2 linked regions of the Homo sapiens genome follow. The protein of the gene in region 2 purifies or fractionates together with the protein of the main gene of each other region. This does not show direct contact. Each region holds a gene or a part of one and is shown on either strand. Other genes may lie near its edges.

What was found.
Region 1: the proteins of CHIT1 (region 2) and RMDN1 purify together in Homo sapiens (affinity purification with mass spectrometry; 2 studies listed by BioGRID and IntAct, with this or other methods). This does not show direct contact.

Annotation. Positions count from the first base shown.
Region 1 is NC_000008.11:86,498,661-86,505,688, reverse strand, and holds part of RMDN1 (regulator of microtubule dynamics protein 1), read left to right. Parts: exon of another isoform or gene 1-2,273; intron 2,274-7,028.
Region 2 is NC_000001.11:203,226,668-203,233,771, reverse strand, and holds the start of CHIT1 (chitotriosidase-1 isoform 1 precursor), read left to right. Parts: upstream 1-4,098; 5' UTR 4,099-4,135; coding exon 4,136-4,160; intron 4,161-5,209; coding exon 5,210-5,239; intron 5,240-7,104.

The sequences.
Region 1 (7,028 bases), on a different chromosome or scaffold from region 2:
CCTTCTGTTTTTATTATTTGGCAAAATTACACTTAAAAAAATAAACATTTCCATCATGGGACATGTATACCTATGTAACAAACCTGCGCATTCTGCACCTGTATCCCAGAACTTAAAAAATTATGTAATTAAACCAGAGGGTAAAATAAATAAAACTCAAGTTAATTTGCCTTGTAGAGCTATATGGAAGTGAGGAAGGTGCTCTTACATAAACCCCGTCTGCCTTCCACACTCATATGTATATCTTCTTCCTGATAAGTCTGAGGTTGGGGGAACTGCGCCTTACTTTTCCTCTCCTATATCCCCTAGTGCGGCAATATTAGAACCCAAGGAAGGAAAAACTGGCAAAGTTGTCATATGCCAAGTGGCCATTGCCTCCTGAAATGAAGGTAGGTTCACTTGGTCTCTCCTAAGCAGAAGAGAATGTCCAGGAAATAAAATATTTAAAAAACCATTGAAAATCCAACAAACCCCAGCCTTGAGGTGCGCATGGAGTGCGTGGGATAAGAAAGGAATCAAGTAGCAGCATTCAGAAGCAGTCCTGGGTTCATCCTGATGAGGTCTCTCATTCAGGGAGAGGTGGCTTTCCCATGCTGGGAGGGAGGTGGAAGGAGGCATGACTTAGACATTGGTGGTGGTCTCCTTAGCAGCCTGGATGCTGTTCATCTCCATGATGCCATCCTTCCCAGATCTATCTGCACCATGTGCCTGCCTTTTAAAGGCCCATGTGATATCCTCAAAAGCCCTGCCATGGGTCTCAGGGACTTTGAAGAAGGTAAAGGTCAAGAAGGTGATGAGGAAGCTGGCGAAGATAATAAAAATACAGGCTCCTAAATAATAAGCAGCAGAGGGGAAGAGCAGTCCGACTAAGAAGTTGGAGGTATAGTTGGAGCAGCCGGCCATTGCAGTCGCAGCTGGGCGGGGGCCCTGGCTGAAGAGTTCGGCCACAATAAACCAGGAAATGGGACCTGGTCCAATTTCAAAGGCCACAAAGACCAAGATAGCCCCGATAAAGACAAAGCTCATCCCATTATACTCATCCTTTAATAACAAACAGTCATGAGCATGGAACAAAAAGCCATCCCTCCAAGGCCTATCATATGCAGGGTCCGCCTTCCTGCCCTTTGCAGCAGAAATAGGGAAACTACAGTGAAGATAGTATTAAACACACGTGCACCAATGGTGGCATAGATGGGCTCTTGAACACCTGCATCCTTGAAGATTCCTGTTGAGTAATAGAACACAACATTGATTCCAGAGAGCTGTCGAGAGAGCTGGAGCACAATGGAAATGATGATTGGCTGTTGGTAGCTGGATACTCTAAAGAACTCCAGCACGGTGACTTGCTTTTCTTGTGACATCCTTGCACTCTCATCTTGCATCTCCTGGTTGTCTTGGGATACATCCTGGGTGCCCCACAACTGCTGGAGGATCTACTTAGCATTCTCCTCTTCTTTTCTGTTAATGAGCAAAAACCTGGGACTTTCAGGGCAAAATGGAAGGGCTGCACTTTGTAGGATAGCAGGAAGGATGGTAAAGCCCAATAATACCGGCCATAGCTCTTCAGACCCAAGGATGAATTTGAATTCCAGACCAAAGATCTGGGCCACCAGAATTCTGACAATGATGCCCAGCTGGTTGAGAGTGCCAAAGGTACCCTGCAGGGCAGTAGCTGAGATCTCTCCAATGTACATGGGCATAAAACCTGTGCACAGTCCACAGAAGAGGCCAATAACCAAGCAGCCCAGGGTCAGCATTTCAACCAACTCAGCTGCTTTACACAATCCCATAAGGCAGCCACCAGAGACAGCCAACAGGTTGACGATAAGCATTGAATTGCACCTGTCAAAAAGTGGTTGATAAAGAGTCTAACGGAAAAGGAGCCAGTCATACCAACAATGGAGAATATGGCCACAGACAAGGACCAGAGGGACGTGAGCAACATCTCAGAGGGAGGGATATTTGCCTGGTCACTCAAAGTGTTATTGATAAATTCCTTTATGATCATCTCAGGAGCACTGATGACTCCCGTGTTGTAGCCAACTTGGAAAGAGCCAATTGTAGCAACTGTAATGGCAACGATCAGAGCTGGGGTGACCTTCTGTGTCCGCATGGTCCTAATCTAATTCTTTTCAAGTCTTCAATAAAGATCTAGGAGTGTGATTCCAGAGATAACTTTTTCAGGCAACAAAACCTTCAAAATGTCCTTCTCAGAAACGAGTTTTCTCCAGGTCCTCAGGAATGCTCTAAACTCTCACCATTACAGCATCTCTCAAGTTATTTTTGTTATTTTTTTTTGTTTTTTTTTTTTTTTTTTGTTTTGTTTTGTTTTGTTTTGAGACGGAGTCTTGCTCTATTGCTCAGGCTGGAGTGCAGTGGTGCGATCTCGGCTCCCTGCAACCTCTGCCTTCCAGGTTCTAGCCATTCTCCTGCCTCAGCCTCCTGAGTAGCTGGGATTATAGGCACGTATCACCATACCTAGCTAATTTTTGTATTTTTAGTAGAGACGGGGTTTCACCATGTTGGTCAGGCTGGTCTCAAACTCCTGACCTCATGATCTGGCCGCCTCGGCCTCCCAAAGTGCTGGGATTACAGGCGTGAGCCACCGCACCTGGCCTAACTTAGTTATTTTTATATAGGTAATGGAGCTAACATTGCTGTGGTCTAGATTATTTTCTGCCTTTCTCTATGTGTCTGTCTAATATCATGTATATATATTTTTTCCTAGAAATTAGAGCTGCCTCAGTGATGCTTTATTAACGGTTTATATTTTTGTAGAGCCCTTAACCTAAGAAGAATATTCTTTTACATTTTTAAAGGGTTGAGTTTGAAGAGTTGGGGGGAAGAAAAAGAACATGCTACAGAGACCATGTATGGCTCACAAAGCCTGAAATATTTTATTCTCTGGATCTTTACAGAAAAAGTTTGCTAATCCCTGCTTTATAGTGACAAAATGAAACCAATCCCGGGGTGTTATATTCTTCTTGATTTGGTTAACAAAAGGCTCTAGTACTTTGAGATAGATAGATTTTATTTACAAACAGAATGCTGCTTGGTAAGTAACAAGTTGAAAGCGAAAAAAAGAAAAATCCATCAAATTTCTTATTGGCGTAATATAGATAAGTAAACGTATATTAAAACTTGGCTGGGCATGGCGGCTCATGCCTGTAATCCCAGCACTTTGGGAGGCTGAGGTGGGAGGATCACTTGAGCCCAGGAGTTTAAGACCAGCATGGGCAAAGTGGTCTTAAACAAAGTGAGACCCCCATCTCTACAAAAATTCAAATGATTAGCTGGGTGTGTGATGCGTGCTTGTCCCAGCTACACAGGAGGCTGAGGCAGGAGGATCACTTGAGTCCAGGAGGTCAAGGTTGCAGTAAGCCATGATCTCACCACTGCACTCCAGCCTAGGCAACGGAGCAAGACCTTGTCTCAAAAAAAAAGACTTGCCAGTTAAAAAAAAATTAGTTAAACCAATTGTGAGCCAAAATTTCTGTATATTAGAGCAATATCATATGAAGAAATTAATGAGTGAAGCTTTTTTGTTTTTTACAATCCTCACTTTTTAATTATAAAGGAGAGGGTGATTGGGGAAAGAAGCAGAGATTTGATTTTGAATAGATGGTCTTATTCAACTTCTGATAGAAGAATTTGAGAACATGATCTAAAGATTGCTAGTTATCTATTGATTTCATTTATCTGTGATTATCTTTCCGTTAAAAAAGCAGATAATTGAGAAGCCCTGCACTGTTCTTTTTTTTTTTTTTTAAATGTATTTATGAAGAAGGACAAAGCAGAGAACTTGGTTTTGTTACTGGCTGAATGATTTATTTTGGCAAATACTTAAAATAATTCATCTTTTTAAAGCAACCTAGACTTTAATTCTCACAGCAGCCTTATAAAATAGTTAGGACAAGTCTTATTATCTTATCACATTATAATAATTTTTGAAAAGAAGTTCACAGAGTTAAACTTGAAAGTCAAAATGTTAGAGTGGAGATTAGAACTTATTTTTTTTTTGAGACAGGGTCTCACTCTGATGCTTAGGCCACAGTGGCATGATCACAACTCGCTGTAGCCTCTACCTCCCCGGGCCCGGGTGATTCTCCCACCTCAGCCTCACAAGTAGCTGAGACTACAGATGCACACCACCATGCCTGCCTAATTTTTGTATTTTTTGTAGAGACGAGGTTTCACCATGTTGTCTGGGCTGGTCTTGAACTCCTAGGCTCAAGCAATCCACCTGCCTCAGCCTCCCAAAGTGCTGAGATTACAGGCATTAGCCACGACACCCAGCTCCTTATCTCTATTTCTTCTTTGAATCTATCACATTTAGTTTCAGTGTATTTTGGTAGCATTATAGAAATGATTGTAAAGATGTAGTGCTTTCTGAAGTAACAAAATTCAGTACTTTGAAAGGGAAAACCAGAATTACTTTTGGCTTTATCATAGTCCATTTTTTTCTTGTTTATTTTTTTTCCAACTTTTATTTTAGATTCAGAGGGTACACGTGCAGGTTTGTCACGTGGGTAAATTATGTGTTGCTGGAATTCGGTGTACAAGTGATTTTGTCACCCAGGTAGTGAGCATTGTACCCAGTAGGTAGCTTTTTGACACTCGCCTACCTCCTGCCCTCCCCATTCTAGTAGGCCCCAGCGTCTATTGTTCTTGTCTTTGTGTCCATGTGTACTCAGTGTTTAGTGCCCAGTTAACAAGTGAAAACATGCAGTATTTGGTTTTCTGTTCCCATATTAATTTGCTTGGGATAATGGCCTGCAGCTGCATCCATGTTGCAGCAATGGATGTGATTTGGGTTTTTTTAAAAATGGCTTTATAGTATTCCATGGTGTGTATGTATCACATTTTCTTTATCCAGTTCACCATTGATGGGCATCTCAGTTGATTGCATGTGTTTGCTAATGTGAACAGTGCAGTGATGAACTTAAGGACGTGTGTGTCACTTTGGTAGAACAATTTGTTTTTCTTTGGGTATATTCTCAGTAGTGGGATTGGTGGATCAAGTAGTGGTTCTATTTTAAGTTTTTTTAAAGAAATCTCCAAACTGCTTTCTACGGTGGCTGAACTAATTTATATTCCCACCAGCAGTGTATAAGTATTCCCTTTTCTCCACAACCTCACCAGCATCTTTTTTTTTTTTAATTATTTTTTTTTGAAATTTTAAGAATAGCCATTCTAAGTGGTATGAGATGGTATCTCATTCTGGTTTTGATTTGCATTTCTGTGGTGATAGTGATGTGAAACATTTTTTCATGTTTATTGGCTGCTGCTTGTATGTCTTTTTTTGAGAAGTGTTCATGTCTTTTGCCCATTTTTTAGTGGGATTGTTTTTTGCTTGTTCAATTGTTTTAAGTTCCCTATAGATTCTGGATATTAGACCTTTGTCAGATGCATAGTTTGCAAATGTTTTCTTTCATTCAGTAGGTTGTCTGTTTAAGAAACCTGTCGATAGTTTCTTTTGCTATATAGAAGCTCTTTAGTTAGGTCCCATTTACCTATTTTTGTTTTTGTTAGAATTACTTTTGGAGACTTTGCCATGAAATCTTTGCCAGGGCCTATGTCCAGAATGGTGTTTCCTAGGTTTTCTTCTAGGTTTTTATAGTTGTAGGTCTTATATTTAAGTCTTTAATCCATTTTGAGTTGATTTTGTATATGGTGAAAGGGGTCTAGTTTCTATCTTCTGCATATGGCTAGGCAGTTATCCCAGCACCATTTATTGAATAGGGATTCTTTTCTCCATTGCTTGTTATGGTCAGCTTTTTTGAAGGTCAGATAGTTGTAGATGTGCAGCTTTATTTCTGAGTTCTCTAACCTGTTCCATGGCCTATGTGTCAGTTTTTGTACCAGTATAATGCCGTTTGGGTTACTGTCTCGTAGTATAGTTTGAAGTCAGGTAGTGTGATGCCTACAGCTTTGTTATTTTTGCTTAGGATCGCCTTGGCTATTTGGGCTCTTTTTTGGTTCCATACAAATTTTAGAGTAGTTTTTTGTAACTCTGTGAAAGATGATATTGGTAGTTTGACAGGAATAACAAATAAGAATCTGTAAATTGCTTTGGGCAGTAAGACCATTTTATCAATATTGATTCTTCCTGTCCATGAGCATGGAATGTTTTTCCATTTGTTTCTGTCATCTCTGATTTCCTTTTCATTGTGGTAAAACATCTAACTGTATTCCTAAGTATTTTATTATTTTTGTGGCTCTTATGAATGGGGTTGCGTTTTTTATTTGGCTCTCAGCTTGGGTGTTATTGGTGTATAGAAATGTACTGATTTTCATACATTGATTTTGTAACCTGCAAGTTTACTGAAGCTGTTTATTAGTTCCAGGAGCCTTTGAGCAGACTGTTTATGGGGTTTTCTAGGTAAAGAATCATATCATCTGTAAGGAGAGATGGTTTGAGTTCCTTTCTTTCTATTTGGATGCCTTTCCTTTCTTTCTCTTGACTGATTGCTTTGGCTAGGACTTCCAGTACTATATTTAAAAGGAGTGGTAAGAGTGGGCATCCTTGTCTTGTTCCATTTTTCAAGGAGAATGCTTCCAGCTTTTGCACATTCAGTTGTTGGCTGTGGGTTTGTCATAGATAGCTCTTATTATTTTGAGGTGCGTTCCTTCAGTGCTTAGTTTGTTGATGTTTTTTAAGGTAAAGCGATGTTGAATTTTATCAAAAGCCTTTTCTGTGTCTTTTGAGATGATCATGTGGTTTTTGTTTTGTTTTTAGTTCTGTTTCTGTGATGAATCCCATTTATTGATCTGCATGTTGAACCAACCTTGCATCTCAAGAATAAAGCCTACTTTTGTGGTGTATTATCTTTTCAATGTGCTGCTGGATTCAGTTTGCAAATACTTTTTTGAGGATTTTTATGTTTATATTCTTTTTTCTTTTTCTTAAGACAGGGTCTCACTCTGTCACCCATGCTGGAGTGCAGTAGTGCAATCTTGGCTCACTGCAACCTCCGCCTCCCAGGCTCAAGTGATCCTCCCACTTCCACCTCCTGAGTGGCTGGGGC
Region 2 (7,104 bases):
CCCTGTATGCTTGGTGCTGAGGGACACATAGAGAGGTGTGGAGAGAGGCCCCACTCTGCCTGGCTATGGACAGTCCAGCTACAGAGATGAGATGCTCACATGAAGCAAGAGAAAAAGGTGTGATACCAACCATCAAGATGCAGTCCCATGAGATCTGGCTGGCGTCCTCCCACCTACAAAGCCCTCTCACACATTATCTATTCGATCCACATCATTACCAAATAAGATAGGTAGTATTATCCCCATTTTACAGATGAGAAAACCAAGGCTTGGAGAGGCTGTGACTAGCCCCAGCTCAGCCAGCCAGGTTGGATGCAAATCAGCAGAAGCTTTAGAATTTCTATACAGGCATCTGCTCTGCAGTAGGGTGGGACGGGGACTTGCTTTGAAGCCTCATTTTATATCAAGCACACTGGTTTTACTTGGTTTGGGCTTTGGCAGTGGCTGAGAAAGGGGTGGGAGAAGCCAATGGGGCTGGAAAGGAGAGTATAAAATCTATGAAAGTAATTTATTGGTGATATCCATTGAGATACACCCAGTTCTGTCTGTCTCCAAGCCAGGGTTCTTTCCTATTCTGGATGGAAGGAGTTGTTCCAAGATAGCAGAAGGTAGTATGGAGTACATTGACTGTGGAAGAGGCAAGGCTTAACTCAGAGTGATCTCTGTAGGACTTGAGGGCCAGGGAGGGCAGCCCCAGGAGGGACACAATTTAGGAGCAAAGGTGTGGTGGGCTGTTAATTGAAGTTTGCTGAAGGCATCAGAGACCTCTCAGTTCTACACATGGGCAATCTGTACTGGTGGCTGGGACCTGCCTACTTAGGTGGGAACTCTGGGTCAGTCCCTGGGGAAGGCTCCTCCCCAGCTTTGGTGGACATGGGCCTGCCTTCTGCTCCCAGGTCTCAGCCTCCAGGCAGGGACTTATTCCTTGAAATCTTGCAATTCAGGTCTGGCCATCAGGTGAGCCCAGGATGTGCCCTACTAGACTGAGGCATACTGTAAAATAAATCCAGGCTGGCAAGGCATTGTATCTCTCTCCTCTCCCTCCAGCCATGTCCAGTGCCCTTTTACACAGAGCCCCTCAGCAGAGATCACCCCCACCTGCCTACCTCAACCAGTGGTTCTCAACCGACAGGACACAGAGTTTTTAATGATGTCCCACTGTCCCTGCATGTATCGTGGGCAGTTTCCTCACTGAGAGGCTCCATCAGTGAACATCTGGTGTGTTTGTTATAACTTCCTTCCCTTTCTCTCTTTGTCCAGCAACCTACTTATTCTCAAAGCTCTGTTCAAGCATCACTCCACTGGCTTTCCCACCCCACCCTGGCTGGTGTTTCTCCTTGAGCTCCTTTGCTCCCTGTGCCCACCTTCATTTACCACGTGTCATTTCTGCTGTATATGGTGTGAGGGGCCTAACTTTGATTCTTTCCAGATTGGTAGACAATTAAGTCATTGGCATTTATAAAACATCTTTTTCTTATTCATTTGAACTGCTACCTTCATTGCACACACCCTCTCCATATATGCTCAGACCTACCTCTGTTTGTCTGTCCTGGTGGCAATTCCATGCTATTTTAATCCCAATGGAATTATAATAAGTTTTGTATAGTGTGTCACCATCATTACTGGTTTTGTATTTTAGTTGACAAAAATTGACATTTGTTATGATATTGTTTTCCCGTGCAAGAACATGTTCAGATCCTATTGCAAATTTATATCCTGTGGGTAAGTTTTATAGATTCTACTATTAAACTTATTATTGTTATTAAATTTATTTATAAATATTTTATAGATTTTGACACTTCTGTGAATCAGACATTTCCTTCACTTCTATTTCTAATTGGTTATTGCTAATGTAGAGAAAAGCTATTCATTTTTGTACATTCACCTTAAATCCAGCCATATTACCAAACTCTGTTATTATTTTTGATCTGTTTTTCTAGAAAACCTAAAGACAATAGGGGATGGGGCAGTGTTTGGAGAAACTCAGATTCTGGGCACTGCAGTGCATGTCCTCCTGGGGACATGAGGCATAGCGAGAAATTCATGAAACTGACAGGTCAGTTGTGTATATGGAGGCGGGGGCGAGATAAGGTGGCCCCTAACTCTCCAGAGAAGCCTCTCCTCCCCGAGGCTCAGGACCTCCCAGTCCTCACTCCTGCATCCCACTCTCACTCCCCCACCACCAAGGAGCTGAGGCACCTCTGCACATCTCAGGTGACCCTGAACAGGCTCTTTTGCAGGATCCCCAAGAGAAAGGGCTGACCACAGCAGAAACAGAAGCCATGACTGCAGCAGGGAAAGGGAGGACTTAGGGCTGGTCCATCTGAGTGCTGAGGTCCAACACTCTCAGGGGCCTCGAAGAGGTTACTAGAGCCCTCTGACACCCCTAGACCAGCAGAAGTGGCAGCACTTGGCAGAACCAGGAATAATAGCAGCCACCATGGAGTGCGTTCCCAACAGTCCTCTGAGGATTCCCCTTTACAGATGAAGAAACTGGAGTTCAGGGAAATTAAGGAACTCACTTCAGTTTACACAGATAGTAAATGGCAGAGGAGGAATTCAAACTCAGGAACCTAACTCCACAGCCTGCCGCACCCAATATTCCCACGTGGCCATCTAGGCCATTCATGTTAAGCCCACCGGCCAAAGACTGGATCCCCTAGAAACTGCAGAGCTTTCTCAGGGACCCTGGAGTTCATGCATACACCAGACATTGTCTGCAGACATTACAGTAATATGTGCCCACTTGGGTCCTGTGGTGAATTGAATGGTGACCCCCTCCCACCCCCCGCAAAGGATAACTTCACCTGGAATCTCAGAAGGTGACTGTATTTGTAATAGGGGTCTTTGCAAATGTAATGAAGGTAAAGATCTCAAGATGAGATCATCTTGGATTAGAATGTCCTTCTCAGAGACAGAAAGGAGGGGACATACAGAGACACAGCGAGGAAGGGCGTGTAAAAATGGAGGCAGGCAGAGGCTGGAACGATGCCGTTGCATGCCCAGGAATGCCACAGGCCATCCGAAGCTGGAAGCTGCTGGGAAGTATTCGCCCCTGGAGCCTTCGGAGGAAGCATGGCCCTGCCAACTCCTTGTTTCCAGGCTTCTGACCTCCAGAACTGTGAAAGAATAAACTTCTGTTGTTTCAAATCACCTGTTTGGTGGCCATTTGTTACAGAAGCTCTGGGAAACCGACACAAATGTCCACCATTCTTCTGTTTTTTTTTTTTTGTTTTTTTTTTTTTGATGGAGTTTCACTCTTGTTGCCCAGGCTGGAGTGCAGTGGCGCGATCTCGGCTCACCACAACCTCCGCCTCCTGGGTTCAAGCAATTCTCCTGCCTCAGCCTCCCGAGTAACTGGGATTACAGGCATGTGCCACCATGCCAGGCTAATTTTGTATTTTTAGTAAAGATGGGGTTTCTCCATGTTGGTTAGGCTGGTCTCGAACTCCTGATCTCAGGTGATCTACCTGCCTCGGCCTCTCAAAGTGCTGGAATTACATGTGTAAGCCACCATGCCTGGCCCAAATGTCCACCATTATTATTCTTCATAAGAAACATAGGCATTTCAAGCCATTACCAAACTTATAGTCACTATTTATCATTATCTATTTTTCTCCATCAATGGATATGCAACTATTACTATCATGAAAAGTAAATTATATTTGCAACCCCATTATCTTCTAGATGGAGAAACAGTTTGAGAGAGGGCAGTGGAGAAGCAAGAGAGCTGGTCTGGAACCCAGCTGCCTGACTCGTGAGTCATTTCTCTTCCTCCAAAGCCCTATTAAGTCTGGGGCTGCTTATGGTCCTCACCAACTACACAAAGAAAGTCAGGGTCATGCTCATCCATCAGGAGGTTCAGGGCCACTTCCCGCTTTCCTCTGTTTGGCAACACTAAGAGTCACCCTCTGATTGTTCCAGAAAAGCAAGAATTGCTAAAGGCCATTGTGTCAAGTTTGCCCAATTCATGCTGCTTGACATCTTACCCCTCCCCACCCTGCTCCCATCCCCCCCACCCAGTGCCCCTGATTGCAACACTCCTGGCTGGGGTGGGACAGGGTGGCCAGATAAAAGCAGAGCAGGACCTGGAAAGCTGGTTTGTATGGGCTGCAGCCTGCCGCTGAGCTGCATCATGGTGCGGTCTGTGGCCTGGGCAGGTGAGCCGTCGGATAGTGGGCTGGGTCTCGGGAGCTGTGGGGAGGTGGGGATGTGGATGTTCAGGGACCACTTGCTACCATTTGCAAGGAAGCAGGAGGACTCAGGAGAACTTCAGAGGGTCATTTTATCCCTCTCCATGCCTCCTGGCTTGCAGTCCCTTGATTACCTTTCCTGTGGGCTCCCCCTTAGGCTCTTTCAGCCCAAGAGACTTCATGTTGCAAGGGAAGGCTTTTCTCAACAGGCTGAAGATGACTTGACTTTCCTCTCTCTGTCCTGAAAGCCCAGAGTCAATGAGGCCCCTGCACTGGGTCTTTGTGTCTTTCCCATGTTCTTAGGTCCCTCCTGTTGGCCTTATCCAAGAAGCGCCCACTGCCAAGAACCTCTTCTCCAACCTCATATTGTCTGTCCTGCAAGAGGGCAGCCTGGGGCCAAGATCCTGGGCATCCTTGCAAATTTTCATGGAGGTTCTATTAGGTTGACAGAGAAGTCCAAGGTCACCAGGTGAAAGAGATCTCTTCGAAGGAGTCCTGTCAGACCCTAGGTCTCCAAGGCTGTGGTTGCCTACCACAGCCAGGTAGCGGAAAGGCAACAGGAAGCCATAAACGATGGGAGCAGAGGCACAGGCCCTCCCCAGGAGATGAACTCTCTCCATGCAGCCCTTCCAGATTGATTCTTTCTAGCCCCAAAACAGGCTTGTTTCTTGTTCCGAAAGAGAAACTATCTCTCTAAATAACTCACAAGTCAGCAGTTTTTCCACAATCTTCCTGAATCCACACTGCCCTTTACTGAGGTATAGAGAGGGGGCAGCCTCAGCCCATGGAACTTTCCATCAGCTTCTAGGACCAACCCAGGCCAGGAAGAGACCCCCGTGGTCTGGTCTGCATGAAGGGATGGGCACAGTGCCCTCCTGGGTCCCTTCTGAAAGGAGAAAGCTTGATTTGTATGAAATCAGCCCTCCCTGACCACCTCCTGTGCTTCCGTAAGCTGTGGGGCCTGGGAAGGTGAGAATGGCAGCATAACCCTGGCCTTCTCTCTTGTGTTGCTCCAGGTTTCATGGTCCTGCTGATGATCCCATGGGGTAAGTAGCCTCTTTCTTGGCTGCCTCAGCCCCTTCCCTGGGCTCTGCTTAATGTCCCAAAACACCTTCCCTGCCAGACCTCCCCAAGAGCTCCAGATTTCAGTGGGGACTCTCTTCCAAAGCTCAGACCCCTGCAAATGTCCCCATCTGCTACCAGCCCTCCCAGGAAGGCTCTTGCCTCCTTATCCATTAGCTGAGCTCCTGCACATCTGTGGGGCCAGCTTGCGCATCAGCCTCTTTCAGGGCTTTCCTTTCCTGGGGTTGCTGGCTCCCTCCTCTGCACTCTGTGCTCTTGCAGCACCTGTGTGTTTTACAGTACAGTACTGCCTCTCATTATTGGCTTAGGTGTCTCTCTGCACCAGTCTCAGACTCCAAGTTGCTGCAGGTAAGGAACCTAAGTCTCATCTGGTTCAGCATCCCCAGCCCCTTAGCTCTGCGAGGACAACACACTTGCTTCTGGTCTGTTGAACTGATCAGATGTGGAGCTTGAGAGAGGCAGGAGGGAGCTCCTTGTTGTGTCAAATGGAAAAGAGACCTGGGGGACCTTCAGCAACTTGAACTCCTGGTCCCCGTCTTGTCCCACCCCATTCCCTGGGCATCAGTGGCCTGGGAATGCTGGCCTCTCAGAACTTGTCCTGCGACTGTGCCTCTCACGCTGGGCTGTAGCATTGGAGGTACATTTCCCTCTCAGCCTCATAGGATGGAACAGCCGGGGGCACAGAAACAGCAAACATGGGGAAGATGAGAGGTGGAAGATTTCTCAAAAAGCTTTAGTCCAGGCTACTTCTGGGCTTTCTGCAGTATAGTAATAATAGTAGGACTTTGTGTGGACTAAGGGTTAATATATGTGAAGCACCTAGAACAGAACTTCTTCCTTGCAGTGTTCCTCCGAGTGTTTTACATATATTAACTTTAGCCCACACTGGGGTCCTGTGACACACATTGTGGAAGGTCCAATGGTCTCCCCGTTTCACACAGGAGGAAGCTGAGTCGCACAGCGAGTAAGTTGCAAAGTTGGGATTTCAACCCAGACACTGACATGCCAGAGTCCCTGCTGTTAACCACTGCACTTTATTTTCTCCATAGTACAGAAATTCATAACAATATTTGATATGCGACAGCATGACATGATAGAAAAAGAGCTTCCTGGCTCCTTCCTACATGGCCTGGGGGATGAGTTATCTGGTTTCATCCCCTCCTTCCTTTCTTTTCCTTTGGGGAGTTCACCAATTCTCCTGTATCATTGCAGGCTACACCCCAGCCCCACTAGCAAGCTGCACTCCTGGGTGACCTCTGGTTAGAGACAGTGACCACTCCGGGGCCACGTGTATGCCCAAGGTCAGCCCTCCATGCTCTCGGGTTCTAGTTGAGGCCTGCCTGAGCGGTCTCTTCCCAAAACTCTCCTATAGACACTTTGCACCCCTCCTCTTCCTCGTCCCATCCCTGTCCATGTGGGCATTGGAGGGGGTACAGACAGACCCTGCTGGGGCAAAGGGAAGTCCCAGGTTCTAGACACCAGCCACAGGCACGCTCCAGTCCAAACTCACTGCTCCATCAAGATCTTGGCATAAAATGTTGGCTCATACAAACCACACCATCATAGATTGAGAGACTGGAAGAGACCCCACAGACCACACAGTCATTATCAGATGGGGCCGGGATTGAAGATGAGATAGACCCAAAGTCTATTTTTGGCAGATGCTGGAATGAAGACTAGCATTCTTGCTTCCTGGTGTCCTGGTCAACCCTGCACAGGGCTGACCTCAGTGGGGGTCATCACCACCGAGCCCTCACTGGGAATAGACCATCCCACCCCTGCAAAGTCTTTTCACACACTGTAGGGTACTCTAGAGACAAGTACCCTA